Linked DNA regions of Homo sapiens: regions 1 and 3 are each linked to region 2. Evidence: fine-mapped expression QTL. A gene starts in region 2. Each other region holds a variant in brackets. All regions are shown on one strand. Distances are between the middles of the regions.

Region 1 (8,178 bases), 53 kb after region 2:
GCATCTGTGTGTCTTGCCTTCACCATCAGATGAGGGGGTTTCTTAGACAGAGGGTATGTCTCCACCATCACACTGGGCGTTCCTAGAGGACAAATGGTGTCTCCCTTCGGTTAGAACAGGAGCTTCCTGAGGTCAGGGACTGTCTTCCCTACTAGACTGGGGTTCCCTGAAGGCAGGAGCTGAGCCTCCAGAATTTTGTGGGTCTCCTTCCCACCTCCGCAGTTCTCTTCAACTGAGACAGCCCTGGTGTTAGACTTTAACAGGAGGAGGCCCTCAGAGTGCCTGGTTCAGAGACCACCTATGACAGAAATGCCGCTGGCATTTGAAGCCACTGGGACTACCACCTCGGGACATGATTGGGGATTCTCGGACAGCTCTTATTCTTTGCGCATCCCGAGATTTCCATTTGTTGTCTCAGTAATCACCAGCCTTGGTGTTCTGTGGTTCCTGTTCCACCAACCCTCCAGGGAAATCCTCTCTGAAGTTTTGAAGAGAACTCACCATACCTAAGCTGACCCTCTGAACAAAGGGAGGCTTGTGGAAACAAGGGGTTAGAGGAGAGGGTTTTCTTCTTCTCCTTCACCAAGGCTTCTGGGGATGGCTAAGGCCGATGACTGTCTCTCCAAAGCCACCCTCCACCCCGCCCCTGTCCCGCGTTGACCTTCCTTCTAATATACCAGCCCGAAGTCACACCTTCTCCCAGGAAGGGTTGGACCGCAGTTCAGCAGAGGCCGTGCAAGCGAACCCTCTCTCTAAGGAATGGTCATGGCGTCTTCCTCCCTGTTTCCCAAACGGGGTGCTGGGATTTTCGTCACAGGTCCCAACTTTCCCAAGTTCCAGTAGAATTCTTCCTGGAACCTTTCTGGTATCATCACCCTGTGCATCTAACAGTCTTAGCCCCCAGCTGGAGATGTGGCAGGGCCTGAGTGAGAGCAGTAAGTACAAGGGGACCTCAGCTCTGTACCAGATGTACCAGAGCATCCCCCCACAGCTGTCTATCACACGGCGCTGGGCCTGACAGGAGACAGGTCGCTGCCAAGATGGCATCCTGAGAACACACATGTAACAGGCGGGCAAGCGGTGCTTCCTCTGCCACCCTCCATGGCACCAAGTTAGAACACTACTATGAGGTACATAGGACAGACCCAATGCCCATCTGTGGATAAAGGAAGTAAGGCTCAGAGAGATTAAGCTGGGCTCAGTGGCTCACGCCTGTAATCCCAACACTTTGGGAGGCTGAGGTGGGTGGATCACCTGAGGTCAGGAGTTCAAGACCAGCCTGGCCAACATAGTGAAACCCTGTTTCTACTAAAAATACAAAAAATTTAGCCAGGTGTCATGGCGGGCACCTGTAATCCCAGCTACTCAGGAGGCTGAGGCAGGAGAATCTTTTGAACCTGGGAGGCGGAGGTTGCAGTGAGCCGAGATCGTGCCATTGCACTCCAGCCTGGGCAACAGAGCGAGACTCTGTCTCAAAAAAAAGAAAAGAAAAGAAATAGATGCAAGGCCCCATGCTATTCAGAAGAGCTGGAACATCATGCCAGGCCTACATTTGGTTTCAGTGTCATCACCCTTTGTGCCACATCTTACAGCAGTGCCAGCTTGGAACCAAACTCAGGCCCCCAGACTCCCAGCCTACTCCCAGGAGCACTGTGTGTAGCTGAGCAGGTCATACACTGCACAACCCCAGGATTGTGCTCCTCACATTGAGGTCAGGGCAGATGGCGTCCCCTGTAGCTGTTGCAGGACATGACCCCCATGGCTCCACGTGGAGGTCCTGCCTCCACACTCAGTCCTCAGCAATCTGTGCACACATTCAACACTTGGGCCACACAAATCCATCCCCTCCTTCTCCTCTTCTCCCACTAGCCAGAGTGGCAGGCAGCAGGAGCTCTTGGGGGCAGGTGGGGATCCCTGAGGAGTGTACACACCACCTCCCAGGACCACCATGTGCTCCCTGCCTCTCCATGTAGGAGCGCTTTCTGCCATACCCCCCATACCCTCTGTACCTCCCCATACCCCAGTTGCCCCCTCACTGTGCCCACACCCCTGCCTCCACACTCATCCCCACACACATGTGGGTACATACACCCACACACACATGTGCACCATGCAAGTGAAGTGCAGGGCCCCAGATCTCCAAGCTCCTGTCTGAGACTCCACCAAGCAGGGGGCTGAGGGCTGAGGGCTGGGGGCTGGGGGCTGGGGGCTGGCCTCCCTTAGCAGAGCCCTCTCCCCCTCTACTCGTGTGCAGGGCCCTGGCCCCTCCCGGGGAACAAGGCTGGGATTAATAAGCGGCCTGGCTCTCTCCCCTAATGGGCTCCAGCTGCACAAACATTCCCAGAATTCAGAGCCGGCTCTGTCTGGGGCGGCCCAGGCCTCAGCCCCAGCATTCCTGGCCCCCTCCCCCAAGGCCTGGGCCAGCTGCTCCGGAACTCCAGCAACTGGCTGGGGATCGAATCCCAATTCAGCTTCTCCAGAGGTGGGGGGCAGTGGAGTGACTGGGGCTGGGGTGGGAGGTGAGGGGACAGGAAGAGGTGAGTAAACTCTGAAAGGACACCTCCCTACCTGCCCTTCCCCCGCCTGCCAGGCCCACCCCTCCCCCAACACTGCTCACACCCTTAGCCTAGGTGCCAGGGCCCAGCTTGGTCTTCCCTAATTTGTCTCACCAGGCAGGGCCCTTGGCTGGCAGTGCCAGGAGGAGGTAACCCAGGCAGGGCTAGGAGAAAAGATAAACATCTCCCCTTGTGTTTTAAGAGATCCAGCTGGGTCTCCATGGAGTCTATGGCCTGGCAGCAGCTTAGTTTAAACAGATTCTTATCAAGCAGTGGGAAGGGGTGGCAAAGGGAGCAAGAGGAAGAAGGAAAGTAGGGGTTCTCACCCTCCCATTATCCAGCTGGGAGTGACACTCAGGGCCCCAGTGGGAGGAATCCTAAGTGGACAAAGATGAGCCCGTGAGGATGATGGCTCTGAACCTGTCTTCCCAGATCCCAGGCTACAGGGGTCAGTCATTCCACTGTCCCTGATCTGTCCTTGATCTGTTGCCCCCAGTTACGCCTGCTGTGGACACCAAGGGCTGAGGCCATGGAAGGAGTCCCATGACTCCTGTTGGTGCCAGGGTCCATCTGAGCAGGGACTAGTGGAGAGCACGCCACCTAACAGAGGTGTGTGTGGCTGTGTGTGTGCCTGTGTCTCCCTGGCCAAGCGGAAGCAGCTGAGTCAAGTAGCACCTGCATGTGGATGTGGCAGTGTGTGTGCGTGTGCCAGTGCACGTCAGCCTCTCTGTGTTCAAAAACGCCGTAAGCTCCACGCTCACTCAGAAAGGCTGCCTGCTGGCCACCCCTCCCCGAAGCTGCAAGTGTCCCTCCCACGGGGCATGCGCCAGAGAGAGGCTGAGAAGAGAAAGTAGAGGACAAACAAAAGAGAGGTAGTGCCGGGAGTGGTGGCTCACGCCTGTAATCCCAGCACTTTGGGAGGCAGAGGCGGGCAGATCACTTGAGGTCAGGAGTTTGAGACCAACCTGGCCAACATGGTGAAATCTCATCTCTATTAAAAATACAAAAATTAGCTGGGCGTGATGGCACACGCTACTTGGAGGCTGAGGCAGAAGAGTTGCTTGAACCAGGGAGGTGGAGGTCGCAGTGAGCCGAGATCACGCTACTCCACACCAGCCTGGGCGACAGAGTAGGACTTCGTCTCAAAAAAACAAAAGGTTGATGAGGCGAGAGCTCTGAGGGAGGCTGTGCGGGCAGCTGAGGCACTGACTTGGGAGTTAGGAAACATAGGTCTTGGCCTCAACTCTGCCAGAGACCAGCCAGGACGTTGGATGTTTCACTTCCCTGATCAGTATCCTTCCCTTGAATAAGAGAAGATTGGACAAGAGTCTCTCCTGAGTCCCTTCTTGGATTCCACTGTGATGACAGCTGGGTTGGGGGACACGGGAGGATGCTACATCCTCTCAGAGCTGCAAGAAAGGGGCTCTGGAGGGGCCACCAAGAGCAGCCTATAGGGACTGCGTAGAGGGTCCCTAGTCTCTCTGGCCCTGAAGAGGAAATTGAGAAAGGGGTGTGCTCCCTGTCTTGGGGAGTCCCGTTCTGCAGGGAAACCAAGTACACCACAACATGGAGACAGATAAAGGCAGGTGATCTCAATTGGCTGAGCTCTTGGCGGCCGTCCTGGGTTGAAGGGGAAGAGGGCCATTGAGCCAAACAACAAGGATCTGTTTACTCTCTACTCTCTTTTTTTCACGTGCACACAGCAAACACATGCGGCCCCTCCTCAGGCCTCTGCAGGCCAAGGAATGCAGACCCACCGCTCCAGGTCTTGGTCCCCATCAATCACACTGCCCATGCATGTCACATCACCTGCTTCCTTGCAGTTCTGGCCATTTCCCCATGGAGGCACAGAGGGAATGACACTCTGACAGCATTTGAGCCCTTTAACTCATCATTGATCTGTATCTCCACTCCCCACCCCACCCCCAGCTATGGGACCAGCTCCTGAGCTGCAGGGAAACAGTAAGGTGAGACCTCCTTTGCATACATGGAGAAACTGAAGGGCTCTGGGTGGGACGGGAACTCAGGAATTGGACCCCATTTAGGACTCTATCCAAGTGAGCCTCATCTAGCTGTTCATCTGGCATTTCGTGAACACCTACTTTGTATTCAGACTTGTGTTATTAATAGAAGCTGAATAATACAAAGAAATAACATTTCTCCCAGGGGTATCAAATCAGAGGAAAAAAAATCCTTCCCCCAAACCAAAGGTGGACTGGAACCTACCATAGACTGACCAAAGAAACAGAGCCATCAACATGCTATTGAATTTTAGAGCTGTTTATTTGGGCACCAGAGAAACAGCAGACCAGATGCCTGAACTTCCCAGGCTGAAGCTCTGGACTACAAAGCTGTAGACGCTTAGCAAGGAAACAGGAAAGGAGGGAAGCAGC[C/T]GGCCATGGTTGTGAAATTCTGAGGTCTAGAACCCTAAGGCAACAAACTGAACCCAAAGCCTCTCTCCTCTACTCCCCACTCCCTTCATTTTTCAGTTATCTATTGAGTAAATAATCCACCCCAAAACTGAGTGCTTACAACAATACAAGTTTTTCTTTTCTTTTCTTTTCTTTTTCTTTTTTTTTTTTTTTTTTTGAGTCTTGCTCTGTTGGCTAGCCTGGAGTGCAGTGGCACGATCTCAGCTCACTGCAACCTCTGCTTCCCGGGTTCAAGCAATTTTCCTGCCTCAGCCTCCCAAGTAGCTGGGATTACAGGCATGTGCCATCATGCCTGGCTAATTTTTTTATTTTTTATTTTTTATTTTTAGTAGAGACGGGGTTTCACCATGTTGGTCAGGCTGGTCTCGAATTCCTGACCTCAGGTGATCTGCCCGCCTCGGCCTCCCAAAGTGCTGGGATTACAGGCATGAACCACCACGCCCAGCCAATAATACAAGTTTTTCTTTGCTCACAATTCTACAAATTGGGCAAGATTCAGTGTGGACAGCTTGCCACACTGGTTCTGGAGCATCCAAGATGCTTCACAAATATATCTGGCCCCTCTGCTGGGACGGCTGGAGGAGAAGGGGGCTGGTTGGGGCTCTCTCTTTTCCTTCATAGTCTCTCATCCTCTGGTGCTTCTCCCTCGCTCTCTTTCCCTATAGCTCCCTCTCCTCCAGGGTGGCCAGACCTCTTTACATGGTGACTGGCTTCCAACAGGGAAGAAGTAGAAGTTGTCAGGTCTCTTAAGACCTAGACCTCAGGTTGGGCGCGATGGCTCACGCCTGTAATCGCAACACTTTGGGAGGCCAGGTGGAAGGAACACTTGAGGCCAGGAGTTTGAGACCAGCCTGGGCAACATGGCAAAACCCTGTCTCAAAAAAAAAAAGAAAAGAAAAGAAAGAAAAATTAGCCAGGTGTAGTGGCACAGGCCTGTAGACCCAGCTACTCAGGAGGCTGAGGTGGGAGAATCACTTGAGCCTGGGAGGCGGAGGTTACAGGGAGCTATGATCACACCACTACACTCCAGCCTGAGTGACAGAGACCTGTCTCCAAAAAAAAAAAAAAAAAAAAAAAAAGACCTAGACCTCACCTGTCAGGGCATCAGTGTTGCTGCCACCATTGGTCAGAGCAAATCACAGGCCACCCTGGATTGATTGATTTATTAAGTCAGAGTCTCACTCTGTCACCCAGGCTGGAGTGCAGTGGCGCACTTGGCTTGCTGCAACCTCTGCCTCCTGGGTTCAAGCCACTCTCATGCCTCAGCCTCCCGAGTAGCTGAGATTACAGGTGTTCACTACCACGTCTGGCTCATTTTTCATATTTTTTGTAGAGATGTACTTTTTGTTGGATTTTGTCATTTTTCGTATTTTTTGTAGAGATGGGGTTCACCATGTTGGCCAGGCTGGTCTCAAACTCCTGAACCCAAGTGATCTACCCGCCTTGGCCTCCCAAAATGCTGGGATTACAGGCATGTAATCAGGTGCCCGGCTCCACCCTGGATTTAAGGAGACAGAAAATGCACTAACGGAGCAGCATGCGCATGAGGGGACGGCATTGCTGGTGGCCCATCTTCGCGGACCACCCCGCCATCCCCCTAACTTGGCTCCCCTTTTGTTCCTCCTTGGCACACTGAAGCACTATCTCCTCTCTGGAGTGTCGTCCTTCTTCTTCTCCTATACCCCATGTCCAATCAGTCCCCAGGTTCTGTTATTGATGCCTCCTCCATGTCTCTCAAATCATTCTTTTTCTTTTCTTTTCTATTTATTTTCTTTTCTTTTCCTTTTCTTTTTGTTTTGTTTGTTTGTTTGTTTGTTTTTTGAGACAGAGTCTCGCTCTGTTTCCCAAGCTGGAGTGCAGTGGGGCGATTTCGGCTCACTGCAAACTCCACCTCCCGGGTTCAAGCAATTCTCCTGCTTCAGCCTCCTGAGTAGCTGGGATTACAGAGGCGTGCCACCATGCCTGGCTAATTTTTGTAGGTTTTTTTTTTTTTAGTAGAGACGGGGTTTCACCATGTTGGCCAGGCTGGTATTGAACCCCTGACCTCAAGTGATCCACCCGCCTTGGCCTCCTAGAGTGTAAAATCATTCTCACAGTCACTACCATCCGCTGTTATCCAGAATGCTCAACGGCTTCCTAAAGGGTCTCCTGTTTTCACTCTTGCTTCAATACCATGTTGCTTTTCAACTTGCAGCCAAAATGAGCATTCCAAAGGCTACACCTGTGGGGTGCTGGATGGCCGGGGACAGGAAAGTCAGGGGGATTTGTGCTTTAATATGTGCTCTTTTGTACCATGTGTGTACCTTTGCAAAAACTAAAATGACTTTTAGGGCCTGGTGCAGTTGCTCACACCTGTAATCCCAGCACTTTGAGAAGCCGAGGCAGGAGCATCGTTTGAGCCCCCGGAGTTTGAGACCAACTTGGGCAACACAGGGAGACCCTGTCTCTACAAAAAAAAAAAAAAATTATTTACGTAATTTTATTTTATTTTATTTTTGGAGACAGGGTCTTGCTCTGTCACCGAGGCTGGAGTGCAGTGGCACAATCTTGGCTTACTGCAACCTCTGCCTCCCGGGTTCAAGTAATTCTCATGCCTCAGCCTCCCGAGTAGCTGGGATTACAGGCATAAGCCACCGCACCCAGCCTTACACAATTTTTTTTTAATTAGCTGGCCATGGTGGTGGTGTCCCAGCTACATGGTGGAGGGAGGGTGGGGGCTGAGGGGGGAGGATCACCTGAGCCCAGGAGGTCAAGGCTGCAGTGAGCAGTACATCACTGCACTCCAGCCTGGGGCAACAGAGTGAGACCCTGTCTGAAAAAACAAAACAAAACAAAACCCCCCACACACAAAACAATTGACTCAAAATCAAATTTAATAATAAATAAAATAAACCAGATCCTCACTGTGTCACTCTTCTACTGGAAACTCCTCAGTGATGGTCCATGGCTCCCAGGATAAAATCTAGACTCTCAATGGAGCTTAGATACCTTTCAAGATCTGCCGCGCCTGGCCCTGCAGGCACTCTTCTCAATTTTGCGCTCTATGTTCCAGTCGAGCCGAACTTCTCTGAATTTCTTGCATTTCCTTGAAAGTACAAATTCTCTCTTGCTTGCAGCTTTTGTACAGGTGACTGCTCACAACACTCTATTTATTCTTCAGGTCTCGGCTCAGGTGTTTCCTCCAGGAAGTA
Region 2 (8,178 bases):
ATCGCACCACTGTACTTGGCGACAGAGTGAGACTCTGTCTCAAAAAAAAAAAAAAAAAAAAAAAAGAAATGAGTTCTGGCTATGTTGCCCAGGCTGGTTCCAAACTCCTGACCTCAAGTGACCCTCCTGCCTCAGCCTCCCAAAGTGGAATTACAAGCATGAGCCACCGTGCCTGGCCATAAATTTGTTAAGTGAATAAGAGCACACAATTCTTACAGATATTAGGGGCTATGTGATGCAGGAGACAGAACACAGCTTTAAGAGCCAAACAGGCCTGGGTTTTAATCTCACCCCTGCCACATACTATGTGACTTTGGGAAAGTTGCCAGATCTCACCTAAGGTGGATTCTTCATCTATAAACAAAAAACAATACCCACTTTGTAGGCATATACATGTGCAGAACTTAGCAGGAGCTCAAAAAATGGTAGCAATTGGCCGGGCGCAGTGGCTCACGCCTGTAATCCCAGCACTTTGAGAGGCCGAGGTGGGTGGATCACAAGGTCAGGAGTTCGAGACCAGCCTGACCAACATGGTGAAACCCTGTCTCTACTAATAATACAAAAATTAGCCAGGCATGGTGGTGCCCGGCTGTAATCCCTGCTACTTGGGAGGCTGAGAGAGGAGAATTGCTTGAACCTGGGAGGTGAAGGTTGCAGTGAGCCAAGATTGTGCCACTGTACTCCAGCCTGGGCGACAGAGCGAGACTCCGTCTAAAAAAAAAAGGGTAGCCATTACCCTAGGTCTCCCAGGATGCCTGCTGAATAAATATTTAATTCAACGTAACTTCTTGTTTTAAAAGGCGCTTTATGATTATGAAATGTATTTTTGTCATTCTGAAATTATTTTGGATGTGGAGTCTCACATTTTTAAAATCTGTTGGTTTCCTACTTGGCAGATGGGAAAACTGAGGTTCAAAGAAGTAAAGTGACTGTTCCAAGGCTGTATAGTTAGTGGCAGAGTTACAAATGGGTCCAAGTCAATGACCAAGCTAATTTATTTATTTATTTAGAGGTCTCACTCTGTTGCCTGGGCTGGAGCACAGTGGCATGATGACAGCTCACTGTAGCCTCAACCTCCTGGGCTCAAGCAATTCTCCCACCTCAGCCTCCCAAGTAGCTGGGACCACAGGCATGCACCACCATGCCCAGCTAATGTTTTAAAATTTTTGTAGAGACAGGGGTCTCACTTCTTGTCCCAGCTGGTCTCAAATCTGGCTTCAAGCAATCCTCCTGCCTTGGCCTCTCAAAGTGCTGGGATTAAAGGCATGAGCCATTGCATCCTGCCCAAGCTAATTTTTAAAAACTCAGAAATAAATGCTGTATCTATCAAATAACAAATTACATCCTTTAGTTACAGGGCTCCTGTACTCAAGAGGCAGGTTGGCAGAATGAGAAGTGCTGTAGGTAGGCCTGTAATCTGAAGATGCAGGTTCTGGTCCTGTTCACACTCAGGTCCCTCACGTGAAAGGCAAGAGTAAACATGAAATACCGTGATTTCTCCTTATTTCATGTACAAATGCTAGACAAGTGTAACATCTTTGTGGAATCACTTTTCTTCTGGGCTACTATAAACTCTTTTTTTTTTTTTTTTTTGAGACAGAGTCTCGCTGTGTTGCCCAGGCTGGAGTGCAGTGGCGCGACCTCAGCTCACTTCAGCCTCCGACTCCCGGGTTCAAGCCTCAGCTCCTGCCTCAGCCTCCTGAGTAGCTGGGACTACAGGCATGCACCACCATGCCCAGCTAATTTTTGTATTTTTTGTAGAGACGGGGTTTCACTATGTTGGCCAGGCTGGTCTCAAACTCCTGATCTCAGGTGATTGCCCGCCTTGGCCTCCAAAAGTGCTGGATTATAGGCATGAGCCACTGCCCCCGGCCTACTATAAATTTTTGAAGGGCAGATGCTGTCATCTTTTTCCACATTCTCCATAGCCCCTATTATGGTGGTTTGAAATAAGAAAAAAAGTGTGTTGAAGGAATGAAAGGTTGCCTGAGTGAATGGAAGAATGTCCTCTATTTCCTGTTTCCAGCTCCCCAGCTCCCCATCTGCCTTGGGGTGGCTGGGAGGGGATAACTGTCATTCAGACCTGGCCCTAGGCCAGGAAAACGGGTTTGTCATGGAAGGAAATTGAAGATGCTGCGTTTACATTGGAGATTTGCTCTCAATTTCCTATCGGACTGCGAGCTTCCTGAATGGGGTATAGGAGCCTGTCATTCATTTTTGTTTCCACTGCTCAGCTTCCATGTTTGGTACCGGCTCTCAAGATGCTTTGAGATGGACTAGGCAGGAGATCTGAGGATCAAAAGCTCAGGCTCAAATGGAGCAGAGAGAGCACAACATTCCCATCCTTAGACTGCTCTGAGAGAAAATGGGCTTGCTGGTGGAATAGAGATGGGTGGGCTGGAAATGGGATGCACAAAAAAAGGCATATCCCCCTCGACACCCACTCATGCCCCAATTTTGAAGGAAAATTTTCATCCTGGTGTAGGGAAAAGGCAAATTCCCCAGGATGTAATAAGGAACATTTTCAAGTTGTAAGAAACCGGAACATCTTTATATCATTCATTCGATCAGGAAAAAAAAATTTTTTTTTGAATCCTGTCAAACCTGGATCCCTTTGTATCCATCTACTTAGAATATTTTTTCCTTCTCCCTACTCCTTTCCTCTTTTTGTTATTTTTCTTCTTCTGCTGTTGTTGTTTAAAACAATTCTTTTCTATATTGGAGCAAGAAACATTTCACCAGACTGTGAGGATTTGGCCCATACTGTGAAGCAAAGGGGCTTTCTAAACTCAATTTTCTTTCTTCTTTTTAAGTCCCCCCTTTCCCCTGTCCCTCGGGAGAGACAACAGAAAATAATTGATCCATCATCCAGTATCAGGCCCAGGAGATTTACATGCAAATTCCTCCTCGACCCCTTTCCAAATTTAAAATCCTAGAAGGGAAAAGAAAAATTCTAAAAGTAGCAGGAACCCTGCTGGCCACACCCCACCCCTTACCAGGTGAGAGATGTGGAGGGGATAATTCACCACAACCCCCCAGTTTCCTCCCGCGTCACACACGCCACCCCTCTCTGGTGTGGAACCACTTAAGATTTGGGTAAAACTCCCCTCTCGCCCTGGAGACGGGATCTGGAAGCTTTTAGGGGGCGGAGGTAGAGGTGGGGAGGCAGAAGGAAAATTCCCTCAAACGTTCGTCAGGCCTAAGAGAGTCGTCCCTTCACTCAAAATTGCCCGTCACCCCCCGCCCCCCACCATTAACTTTCGATTAAGACCTCCTCCTTAGGGCAACTAAACTTTACTTTGCACAATTAAGATTTGCCGCAGAAGAAGCGGGAGGGAGAAGCCGCAGCTCCGGGCCATTCTCCTTTCCCTCGCTCCCTCCAAGCCCCCCGCCCCAACCCTCCAGCTCCGGGCCTCCGAGTTCCTGAGTTTTCTCACTTTGAGGTGCCACCGAACACAAAGAACCATAATGGGCTCCTTTGTGTTGGCTACGGGGCAATTACGCCTCGGAGTCCTGGTCCCTTTAAGAGTCTCTTAAAGAGACAGGATCCCATTTTTCAGAGGGTTTTTTAAGGGTGTGTGGAGGGGGAGGGCGAGGGATCTACGTGTAAAGTGAAGTGAAACTTTCGCCTGGGCTCCAGAAAGAGCGGACAGAAAAGGTCTTTGTAAATTGTTAGTTTTTTTAAAGTCTGTTTTAATTTTTAAATTTGAGATTTTTCACTCGATTTGAAAAATTGGACTAGGAATAGGTGGGGTTCGAGGATCGGGGGCGGGGGCAAGGGTTTAAAGAGTCCCCACCCGGCAGAGCACCTCGGCCCGGGAAGAGGAGTGAGCCAGGGTCGAGTAGTGTCCCCCGATCTCGCCGCGGCAACTCCGGAGAAATCCCGGGCTGGGCAAACAGCCCTTAATATAATAATAGCTTGTCTCTTTAAAAAGCAAAAGGGGGGGAAAGTTTTGTTGGCATCTGGTTTCTGATCTCATTATGTTGTGGTCGACCAATCCAGCCCTCGGGCCTGGTCCTCGGGTTTAAATCTGATTGGCCGAGAGCACATTTTGGGTTGGTGCTTAGAGCTCGACGGGGCGGTTTCAAGGATCCCTTTTTTGGGGGGCTGAGGAGAGGGCGGGGCCGCCAGCGGGGGCCCCCTTGAAACCGACTAATTGGGATCGGAGAGGCCGAGGTGAGGGCTGGAGGAGGCACAAAGAAGTCGCTGGGTGCAGAAGGGAGGGGAGAGGGGGAGCTGAGAGGCGAGAGGAGGAGGAAGAGGAGAGAGGGCAGCAGCGCGCGGTGTCTCCGGCTGCTCAGTCCGACCGCGGCAAGCAAGCGGGCAGGCGCACCGCCCCCTCCCCCGCCCGGCCTCCCCAACTCTGCGGCCGCGAGTAAAGTTTGCAAAGAGGCGCGGGAGGCGGCAGCCGCAGCGAGGAGGCGGCGGGGAAGAAGCGCAGTCTCCGGGTTGGGGGCGGGGGCGGGGGGGGCGCCAAGGAGCCGGGTGGGGGGCGGCGGCCAGCATGCGGCCCCGCAGCGCCCTGCCCCGCCTGCTGCTGCCGCTGCTGCTGCTGCCCGCCGCCGGGCCGGCCCAGTTCCACGGGGAGAAGGGCATCTCCATCCCGGACCACGGCTTCTGCCAGCCCATCTCCATCCCGCTGTGCACGGACATCGCCTACAACCAGACCATCATGCCCAACCTTCTGGGCCACACGAACCAGGAGGACGCAGGCCTAGAGGTGCACCAGTTCTATCCGCTGGTGAAGGTGCAGTGCTCGCCCGAACTGCGCTTCTTCCTGTGCTCCATGTACGCACCCGTGTGCACCGTGCTGGAACAGGCCATCCCGCCGTGCCGCTCTATCTGTGAGCGCGCGCGCCAGGGCTGCGAAGCCCTCATGAACAAGTTCGGTTTTCAGTGGCCCGAGCGCCTGCGCTGCGAGCACTTCCCGCGCCACGGCGCCGAGCAGATCTGCGTCGGCCAGAACCACTCCGAGGACGGAGCTCCCGCGCTACTCACCACCGCGCCGCCGCCGGGACTGCAGCCGGGTGCCGGGGGCACCCCGGGTGGCCCGGGCGGCGGCGGCGCTCCCCCGCGCTACGCCACGCTGGAGCACCCCTTCCACTGCCCGCGCGTCCTCAAGGTGCCATCCTATCTCAGCTACAAGTTTCTGGGCGAGCGTGATTGTGCTGCGCCCTGCGAACCTGCGCGGCCCGATGGTTCCATGTTCTTCTCACAGGAGGAGACGCGTTTCGCGCGCCTCTGGATCCTCACCTGGTCGGTGCTGTGCTGCGCTTCCACCTTCTTCACTGTCACCACGTACTTGGTAGACATGCAGCGCTTCCGCTACCCAGAGCGGCCTATCATTTTTCTGTCGGGCTGCTACACCATGGTGTCGGTGGCCTACATCGCGGGCTTCGTGCTCCAGGAGCGCGTGGTGTGCAACGAGCGCTTCTCCGAGGACGGTTACCGCACGGTGGTGCAGGGCACCAAGAAGGAGGGCTGCACCATCCTCTTCATGATGCTCTACTTCTTCAGCATGGCCAGCTCCATCTGGTGGGTCATCCTGTCGCTCACCTGGTTCCTGGCAGCCGGCATGAAGTGGGGCCACGAGGCCATCGAGGCCAACTCTCAGTACTTCCACCTGGCCGCCTGGGCCGTGCCGGCCGTCAAGACCATCACCATCCTGGCCATGGGCCAGATCGACGGCGACCTGCTGAGCGGCGTGTGCTTCGTAGGCCTCAACAGCCTGGACCCGCTGCGGGGCTTCGTGCTAGCGCCGCTCTTCGTGTACCTGTTCATCGGCACGTCCTTCCTCCTGGCCGGCTTCGTGTCGCTCTTCCGCATCCGCACCATCATGAAGCACGACGGCACCAAGACCGAAAAGCTGGAGCGGCTCATGGTGCGCATCGGCGTCTTCTCCGTGCTCTACACAGTGCCCGCCACCATCGTCATCGCTTGCTACTTCTACGAGCAGGCCTTCCGCGAGCACTGGGAGCGCTCGTGGGTGAGCCAGCACTGCAAGAGCCTGGCCATCCCGTGCCCGGCGCACTACACGCCGCGCATGTCGCCCGACTTCACGGTCTACATGATCAAATACCTCATGACGCTCATCGTGGGCATCACGTCGGGCTTCTGGATCTGGTCGGGCAAGACGCTGCACTCGTGGAGGAAGTTCTACACTCGCCTCACCAACAGCCGACACGGTGAGACCACCGTGTGAGGGACGCCCCCAGGCCGGAACCGCGCGGCGCTTTCCTCCGCCCGGGGTGGGGCCCCTACAGACTCCGTATTTTATTTTTTTAAATAAAAAACGATCGAAACCATTTCACTTTTAGGTTGCTTTTTAAAAGAGAACTCTCTGCCCAACACCCCCACAAGGTTTGTAATTAAAACTGTAAATAGTCTTTGTAAATTTAATTATATATATTTTCTATTTAAAAGAAAAAAGGAGAAAAAAAAACAGGGGTGTGGGCGCCAGGACTGAAGAATGAGGTGTGTGTGTGTTGGGGAGTGTAGTTGGGGGGAGGGTTCTCTTTCTTAAGTGCCCTTCAAAACCCGCCCCACTTTTGGAGTTTTTTGGTGATATGGCAGGGCTGGGCCTGATGGGAGAGGCACCCAGCCTGAGCGCTGTTTTTGTTGGCTTTGAGTCGTTAGGAGTTTGTTCCATTCAACTAATATAAAAGCCAAATTTGTGAGCCTCCTCTCTGACGCTGGGCCTGTGGAAGCCGTTGGATATTTTTGAACAGGACTTGGATTCGTTTTGTTTCCTTCCCCCTTTTCTTTCCCTACTCATTTGTCCTGTCTTCTTCACTCACTCTTGGAAAAGTCCCAACAGAGATGAAGACGTGGAAAAAAAAATCGGGGTCGGGGTGTGCTGGTGGGGAGAGGGCAGAGATCCGGTGAGGAATGGCTTCCACCCCCTGGCCCATTCCCCTGCAGGCTGGAAGATCTTTCTCCTGTCTGGCTTCTCTTCTTTTCAATTCGCTGCACCAAGTGCTTCCAGTGGCCCAAAAATGCTTTTTGAAGTGTGTTTTGAAACAGCCCCCACCAACATACACCCCACCAGGAGTACTGATCCTGCCTCCCTTCATGTCTAGGGGAAGCATTCGCCTTTGAGCACTTGTTTGCAAATCTGGGGAGTTTGAGACCTCCTAGCATCTCTTCCCTTCTTTCCCTGCAGTCTATTCACTCCCGCAGCCAAAAATCTCTGGCGTTCAGGTTAGCAGTTTCTGGGTTGGTTTGTGTGGGTTTTTGTTGTTGTTTGGGGCTTATTTTTTTCAAAAAGTGATAAAGACGGGTGGGTTGGAGGGAGGGGACTGATGGGCTGGTGGGCTTTTTAGTTTTCCTTTGAGAAAAAGACTGGTTTATTTAAAATTTGTCCAGAAAAAAATGAAAAAAAAAAAAAAGGTGGTATCTTTGCTTTAGAAGAAGTCTCTGGATAGGCCCTTTGTGGCTGTGGGGGTGGGTTGAGTGTTTACATTACATTCTATATCACAAGATTGATAGGATGTTTAAAGCAGATGTTTCTTATCTTCCCCTGAGCCCCTACAAATAAAGTCAAGACTTTTCTTTTTTTGAGACGGAGTCTTGCTCTGTCGCCCAGGCTGGAGTGCAGTGGTGCGATCTTGGCTCACTGCAACCTCCACTGCAGCGTTTCTCCTGCCTCAGCCTCCCAAGTAGCTGGGACTACAGGCGCACGCCACCACTCCTTGCTAATTTTTGTATTTTTAGTAGACACAGGGTTTCACCATATTGGCCAGGCTGGTCTCGAACTCCTGACCTCGTTATCTGCCTGCCTCGGCCTCCTAAAGTGCTGGGATTACAGGAGTGAGCCACAGTGCCTGGCCTGTCAAGACTTCTCTTAAGTTAACTTCCTGAGAAGTGATGTCTAAAAGTATCTTTGCTGGTGTGAGAACTCCAGTTTCCAACACATATTATTTCCCTCAACTATTTGGAATATTTTAGAATTTTAATTCCAAAGGATTAGTTTGAATACAAGTATGCCACATAACTCAGTTTTCGCCATCTTCCATTTCTTAACAGTGTAAATTAAAAGCTAATAATCATAATAATAAAGTGCATTTAATTATCTTTGAGAGATCTATCCTTTTAATTGTATTTAACAGGGTTGTAACATTTTATTAGTTTAACCAAACCACACCTCCTCCTCCCCTCTCTCCCTTACCTACTTGGCT
Region 3 (8,178 bases), 67 kb after region 2:
TAACAAAGTACCCCAAAATTTAGTAGCTTAAAACAACAATTGTTTTATTATATCTCACGATTTTATGTGTCAGGAATTTGGGCAGGGCTTGGCTGGGGAGATTCTTCCGCTCCACACTCCACAAGGTGTTGATAAGGACATTTGATGATATTCAGCTGGCAGATGGGCTGGTCAGGAGAATTCAAAACAGTTTCACCTACATGTCTATTGTATTGGTGAGCATGGCTAAAGTTAGAACTATTGGCCGGGCGTGGTGGCTCATGCCTGTAATCCCAGCACTTTGGGAGGCCGAGGTGGGTGGATCACCTGAGGGCGGGAGTTCAAGACCAGCCTGACCAACATGGAGAAACCCCATCTCTACTAAAAATACAAAATTAGCCAGGCATGGTGGCACGCGCCTGTAATCCCAGCTACTTCGGGGGCTGAGTCAGGAGAATCGCTTGGACCCAGGAGGCAGAGGTTGCAGTGAGCCGAGATCGTGCCATTACACTCCAGCCTGGGCAACAAGAGTGAAACTCTGTCTCAAAAAAAAAAAAAGTTAGAACTATTAACTCAACTAGAACTATTAAACAGAACACCTCCATATGACCTCTTTAGCATAGTGAACTCAGAATAGTCTGACTTCTTACATGACAGCTCAGGCAGCTCAAAGGGCACGGGTTTGAGCGTTACAAGGACCAAGGTTGAGGCTGCATGAGCTTTTTTTTTTTTTTTTCTCCCTGTAGCCTCAACCTCCCAGGCTCAAGCAATTTTCCCCCTTCACCTCCTGAGTAGCTGGGATTATAGGTGGGCACCACCACGTCCAGCTAATTTTTTAATTTTTATAGAAACAGGGTCTCCCTATGTTGCCTAAGCTGGTCTCAAATTTTTTTTTCTTTAGAGACAGGGTCTTGCTCTGTCTTCCAGGCTAGAGAGCAGTGGTGAAATCAAAGCTCACTGCAGCTTCAGACTCTGGGCTCAAGCGAGCCTCCCAACTTAGCCTCCTGAGTAGCTGGGACTACAGGCATGCGTCACCACACCCAGCTGATTAAAACAATTTTGATAGAGACAGGGTCTTGCTATTTTGCCCCAGCTAGTCTTGAACTCCTGGATTCAAGCAATCCTCCCGCCTCGACCTCCCAAAATGGTAGGATCACAGGCACGAGCCACTGCACCTGGCCCTGCAAAGGCTTTTATAACCTAGACTTGGATGTCACATAGAGTCACTGCCACCATATTCAGTTGGTCAAAGTAGTCCAGATTCAAGGCAAGGAGACACAGACCTTACCTCTGAATAGGAGGAGTGTCAAAGAATTTGAAGTTATACATTAAACCCTCCTCACTTTTTGACCCCCAAAAGAAGTTTCCCGGAGGGATGAACTCCAGAGGGATGTCGATGGAACAGTCTATCCTTCTTTCTCTGACAAGGAATTAGGATTATATCTCCTGTGATTTAGAGGCAACCATTTCACACCCTTCCCTGGAGGTGTGCGGGTATAGCCTCACCCATATCCATCCACATGCACACACACAGGTATTCACACAGGCAGATCTGGTACATCTGTGTAGCCAGCCCTCTCTCCATTTCTATCCGTTTTTCAGGTCAAGGAGACCCAAAGTCCTGCCCTAGAGTTTTTCCTGGGAAGTTAATTAACTGACCATTCCTGCTCCCACTAGTGTGAACAGGGGGTGTCGGTAGGGATGAAACCCAGTCAGTCACTGACTGGGGAGTCTGACTTTGATGTGTTCTCTGGGGTGTGCATGCACGTGTGTGCATAAATGCCTCCTGGTTCTGACTGGCTCGAGTCAGTATAGAAGTAAGTTCTGGTGCTAAGAGCAGGCTGGATGGCTCACACACATTCTATAAATCCAAGGAAGCCAAAGTGAGATCCAAATTCTGCAGGGGTCAGCCCAAATCCTCCATCTAACCAGCCCTGCCACACTCTTCCCCATACTCATCCTCTGTCCCATGCGTACTCACCGCTCCCTGATCATGCCACATTCTTCCATTCTTCTGCAGCTTTGCCCATACTGTTCTCTCTGCATGGAATGCCCTTGCCCCCTCTTTTTCCTGACAACCCTAGTGTCTGCCTTTTGTATCACATGATATTGCAATGATCTGTATATATTATTATTATTATTATTTTAGACAGAGTCTCACTCTGTTGCCAGGCTAGAGTGCAGTGGTGTGATCTCTGTTCACGGCAACCTCCGCCTCCTGGGTTCGAGCAATTCTCCTGCCTCAGCCTCCCGAGTAGCTGGGATTACAGGCATGTGACATCACACCTGGCTAATTTTTGTATTTTTAGTAGAGACAGGGTTTCGCCATGTGGGTGAGGCTGATCTCGACCCCTTGACCTCAGATAATCCGCCTGCCTGGGCCTCCCAAAGTGCTAGGATTACAGGCGTAAACCACCATGCCCGGCGATCTGTATATATTAATAGCTCCACTTTCCTCAAGAGCAGAGACCATGCTCTACTCATTGCCATATCACTAGTGCTTGGCACACAATAATTTTCAACAAACACTGGTTGAACTAATGATTGAATGAACAGCTATTGCTCCCAGATTCAGCAACTATTTCTCCTCCATGTCTTTGCTCTGTCCAACTCCACCCCAATTCCCCGGGCTGCTATGAGAAGGGGCAAGGGTCCCAAAGGCTAGAGTGTAAAGTTTGGGCTGCATTCTTGAGGCCCCAGGGAGATTCTGCAGAGTCTCCGAAAACAGGGAAGGATTCCATGTTGTAGAGGTGGGCCCAGCAGGCCCACAGGCCCTCACACCCATAGTGGGAAAAGCCAGAGAATTCTGCAGGGTTTTTCTAATGTTGGGGAGGATGTCTCAAAGTCCGAAATAGCCTGTAAACATTGGGTTAAGTGTTAGGGTCTGCTGGGAATACTTAGACTGGGACTGAGCCAGTACCCTGCTGGAAGAAAATAATTCTGGCTGCTGAGGTGGGGGCAGGTGCAGTTGAAAAAAGCAGTCCTCAAGATCAGTGCTCCTGGCTGGGCGTGGTGGCTCACGCCTGTAATCCCAGCACTTTGGGAGGCCGAGGGGGGCAGATCACTTGAGGTCAGGAGTTCAAGACCAGCCTGGCCAACATGGTAAAACCCCATCTCTACTAAAAATACAAAAATTAGCCAGGTGAGGTGGCTTACACCTGTAATCCCAGCTACTCTCCTGAGGCAGGGGAATCACTTGAACCTGGGAGGCGGAGTTGGCAGTCAGCCGAGGTTGCACCACTGCACTCCAGCCTGGGTGACAGAGCAAAACTCCATCTGAAAAAAAATGAAATAAAAGATCAGTGCTCCTCACACTTGAATGTGCAAATTCCCTGGGAATCTTGTTAAAATGCAACTTCTGATTCAGAAGGTATGAGGTCAGCCCCAAGATCCTGCTTTTCTAACAAGCTCCCAGGTGATGGCACTGTTGGAAGGGTAGAGGAGGGGCCAGAACGCAGTTGGAATCACACTTTGAGTAGCAAAGACCTAGAAAACTAGCATTATGATCCAGACGCTGAGGATTCAGCCCTTAAAGGGAGTAGCTGCCATCAGCAACATCAGTAAGGTGTTCAGAAGATGATGCAGGAGACAATACACAAAGCAAGCCTGACAAAAATCTGGCCCGCGTGCCTACCCTTCCATTCTTTGATTCTGTGACCATGGCAGACATCACTAGTGGATCCCAGCACTATCTCCCACTAAGCCAAAAGGATGCTTCAGAATCCATCTCACCACAGTACTCCAGGTAGTCACCCAATTAATTACAGTTGGCATGAGAAATAACCCCACTTGCTATTTCTGGTATTGTGGTTAAGAGTCTGACTACTTTTGCTCCACTCTGGCTAGTTTGATGCCCTTACAGCAGCTTTCATGAACATCAGTTATTTAAATATGTTGTAATTTGAGGTAAAGAGAGCCCTCATTTTGTAGTTTTGGATGTTAAATGAGGCTGGGTGTGGTGGCTCGTGCCTGTAATCCCAGCACTTTGGGAGGCCAAGGCAGGAGGATTGCTTGAGCCCAGGGGTTTGAGACTAGCCTGGGCAACATAACAAGACCCCAACTCTACAAAAAAATTTTAAAAATTAGCCGGGTTTGGTGGTACACGCCTGTAGTCCCAGCTACTTGGGAGGCTGAGGCACAAGGATCTCTTGAGCTCAGGAGTTCAAGGCTGCAGTGAGCTATGATCACGCCACTGTATCCAGCCTGGGTGATGGAGTGAGATCTCGTCTCAATTAAAACAACAACAACAAAGAACATTAAATGATATTATGAATGTTAAGTGTCTGGCACATAGAAT[G/T]TGCAGATATTCAATAAATGGTGGCTAGGCCTGTCACGGTGGCTCACGCCTGTAATCCCAGCACTTTGGGAGGCTGAGGAGTGCGGATCACTTGAGGTCAGGAGTTTAAGACCAGCCTGGCCAACATGGCAAAACCCCAACTCTACTAAAAATACAAAAAATTAGCTGGGTGTGGTGGTGTGCATCTGTAATCCCAGTTACTCGGGAGGCTGAGGCAGGAGAATCACTTGAACCCGGGAGGCAGAGGTTGCAGTGAGCCAAGCTCCTGTCACTGCACTCTGGCCTGGGCAACAGAGCCAAACTCTGTCTCAAAAATAAATAAAATAAAATAAAATAAAATAAAATAAATGGTGACTACCATGTAGAGGGGTGAATATATTGCCTGCACAGTTTGACAGGACATGGTGGTGGAATGGGAAAGAGGAAGAGAGGGAGACAGGAGCCAGAGTGCTGGGGTGGAGAAGAATAGGTGACAAAGGCTATTCCTGCCTGAGACTGTGGGCAGATTCCCAGCTCTCTTTGGTTGGCCCTGGGCTCCCTACTGACACTAAAGCTCTTTGAAAGAGGTGAGTGGCACTTGTCATCTTGAAATACCTGAGTACAGAACTTCTTTTCAAGGAGAGTTGTGAAAGACTCCAATATGGTCAAAAAGATTATTGTCTGTCCTTGTGTGTTATTTTCTAGTTTTATGGTCATCGAGCTATTTTACCACCCAATCAATGGAAATAATTCTTGTCCATAGAAATGCAAATTGCCTGGTGCATATGCAATTGATTATTGCTCAGTGGTTATTGACCAATTTAGCATCTATTAAGCAGATTTACTTCATCTTTTTTTTTTTTTCTGAGACAGCTCTGTTGCCCAGGCTGGAGTACAGTGGTGTGATCATGGCTCACTGCATCTTCAGCTTCCCGTGCTCAAGTGATCCTCTTGCCTCAGCCTTCTGAGTAGCTGGGACTACAGGTGTGCATCACCATCCTTAATTTTTTAAAATTATTTTTTGTAGATAAAATTTTTTGTAGATTATTTTTTGGATCTCATCATGTTGCCCAGGCTGGTCTTGAACTCCTGGGCTCAAGTGATCCTCCTACCTTGGTCTGTCAAAGTGCTGGCATTACAGATGTGAGCCACTGTGCCGTGCCTACTTAATCACTCTTTTTGTTTGGTTTGTTTTGTTCTAAGACGGGGTCTTGCTCTGTCACCCAGGCTGGAGTGCAGAGGCATGATCTTAGCTCACTGCAGCCTCAATCTCCTGAGTAGCTGGGACTACAGGTGCACATCACCATGCCTGACTAATTTTTTAAATTTTTGGAAGAGACAGGGTCTCACTATGTTGCCCAGGTTGCTACTTCATCATTCTTTTTTTTTTTTTTTTTCTTTTTTTTGAGACAGAGTCTCACTCCGTTCACCCAGGCTGGAGTGCAATGGTGCGAACGTGGCTCACTGCAACCTCCGCCTCCCAGGCTCAAGTGATTCTTATCCCTCTGACTCCCTAGTAGTTGGGATTACAGGCATGCACCCCCATGCCTGGCTAATTTTTGTATTTTTAGTAGAGACAGTGTTTTGCCATGTTGGCCAGGCTGGTCTTGAACTCCTAGCCTCAAGTGATCCACCTGCCTCAGCCTCCCAAAGTGCTGGGATTACAGGTGTGAGCCACAACGCCCAGCCTATTTCATCATTCTGGATGGCCTAAATACGTCTCTGCTCTTTGGATCGTCCTTTGAACTGACTGTAACATCTTACTGGTTCCTTCACTAATTAATGAGTTAAATAAAAATTTTGACACGATTATTGTATATTTCTATGAGAGTAATTATTTTGCTTTGTAAAAAAAACCTTTTTTTTTGACATTCTCATTAACAATGAAGATTGGGCAGGAGGTTTCCAAGACCCTCTGCCCCGGACAAGCTTTTCCACAGGCTCCAATCGCCATTACATCTGTCAGGTTGTTTTTTTTGTTTTGTTTTGTTTTTGAGACGGAGTCTTGCTCTGTCTCCAGGCTGGAGTGCAGTAGCACGATCTTGGCTCACTGCAACCTCCGCCTCCCAGGTTCAAACGATTCTCCTGCCTCAGCCTCCAGAGTAGCTTGGACTATAGGTGCACGCCACCATACCCAGATCATTTTTGTATTTTTAGTAGAGACAAAGTTTCACCATGTTGGTCAGGATGGTCTTAATCTCTTGACCTCATGATCTGCCCGTCTTGGCCTCCCAAAGTGCTGGGATTACAGGCATGAGCCACCACGTCCGGCTCATCTGTCAGGTTTATAGGGGATTACCCCCACTTCATTGCTTGTTTTATGCCATCCAAATAGATACATAATTATTCAATATTTGAGCTGGACACATTCTCAAACATTTATATGAGTTTGTTTAACAAAACATATAACAAACCTACAAGTACCACACCAAATACTTATCCATGTATTCATTCAATGATAGGAAGTTGCATGTGGCAGGGACTGCATTTGTGCCTCTTTTGAGCTTAGCAAGTGCCTAACTCATGGTAAGTACTAAAGACACATCCACTGAGCCAACACATGAATGAATAAGCCCAGCAAGACTTTACTAAGTGTTTACTATGTGGTGAACATTGTTTTAAACACTTTATTTAATTTAATCCTCAAACTAGTTACATGGTAGGTACAATTAATTACTATCCTCATTTACACATAATACAGAGAGGTGAATGAACTTGCTCAAGGTCAACAGCTAGCCATGGCTGAGGCAGAATTCAAGCCCTGGTAGCCTGGCTCCTGAGCCTATGATCTTGGGCACCCATATGCGCCAGGCATCTTGCTAGGTTCTGATATACAGAGATAAAAGACACACCAAACACAGACTTTCCTTAAGGAGGTCACACTGAAGAAAGGCAACAAATAACTAAAAAGAATGTGACGTGCTCTGGCAAGTGAGAACACGATGCTAGGGACAGAGGGTGTCAGAGGGTTGGACAGGTGTGGTTGACGGCAGAGGGGCCACCTGACCTGAGGCAAGTTCTGAGGCTACTGGTAGTTAATGTTCAGATCAGAGGAAGGGAAGAGCATTCAGGCCACTGGTATGGTTGGTCTGAGAAGGTGAGAGTCCCGAGGCCGGAGCCCAGAAGTGCAGAGAAGTGAAACTGGAGAGAGGAGCCAGGTCCAGATCCTGGAAAGCTTCACTTGCTGAGGGAGGAAGGGTGTTGGGATACCCCTTGGAGGCCTCGCAGGACTGTTCGCAAGGGAGATATGAACTCAGATGCCACACTCCACCTGCCCTGCCCAGGACACGAAACCCAGTACACAGAATTCCCTACAAGCTGTATCCCACTCGGGAGAGTTCCCCGGGAGGGCTAGACAGGAGGGCAGTGCTAACTGAGTGTGGGACACAGCCAGTGCCACCTGGGAGCCATGGCTGGGAGTCTCTCTCCAAGCCCTCCCCCACAATCCCTTCAGTCACCCCCCACCCACCCTTGCCAGCTCAGACACTCAGGCACACTCCCTCCGGTCACATCCCCCTTGAGGCCAGAGATAAGAATAAGCAACATGTCTCTTCCCACATCCCTTCCCTGCCCGCCCTCTGATTCTACCATCCAAAGCAGCTGCAGAGCCTGGAACACCCCAGGCCCCAGTCAGAGGAGGGAGCATGGGGAGATGGGAGCTTCCTGGGGGGGCCGTGGCTATGGGCTGTGCCCTCCCCTCCCACAGGGCTGAGGCTGGTGATTAGTTGGGTTAATTATATCCGAGCCATTTCCGATTGGCACAAGCCCACCCACCCACAGAGCCTGCCCAGAAGGCAGGCAGGCCGGGCCCAGGTCAGGATGCTGGGGCACCAGCTCCTCTAGGTGGATTCCTGACCCCTGTGCTGATGGCCAAACGGAGGCTGATTGTCCTCCCTGCTCCAGGACGGCCTCCTCTTCACTCA

What was found.
Region 1: its variant is fine-mapped to the expression of FZD2 in whole blood (TOPMed, PIP above 0.99). The same link has a PIP of 0.9 or more in blood mononuclear cells and monocytes.
Region 3: its variant is fine-mapped to the expression of FZD2 in whole blood (INTERVAL, PIP 0.93).

Annotation. Positions count from the first base shown.
Region 1 is chr17:44,606,144-44,614,321 of GRCh38, forward strand. No RefSeq gene overlaps it. Among named protein-coding and RNA genes, the nearest start is that of LINC01180, 40 kb to the right of the region's middle. RefSeq lists an enhancer at 1,294-1,905. The variant C/T (reference allele first, on the strand shown) is at 4,949.
Region 2 is chr17:44,553,184-44,561,361 of GRCh38, forward strand. It overlaps FZD2 (frizzled class receptor 2), which reads left to right and starts at 4,301. Exons shown (of 1, transcript NM_001466.4): 1 at 4,301-8,079. The coding sequence starts at 4,506. The coding sequence ends at 6,203. RefSeq lists enhancers at 2,796-3,565, 3,566-4,333, 4,551-5,511 and silencers at 4,008-4,107, 4,506-4,752, 4,998-5,047.
Region 3 is chr17:44,619,893-44,628,070 of GRCh38, forward strand. No RefSeq gene overlaps it. Among named protein-coding and RNA genes, the nearest start is that of LINC01180, 26 kb to the right of the region's middle. The variant G/T (reference allele first, on the strand shown) is at 4,277.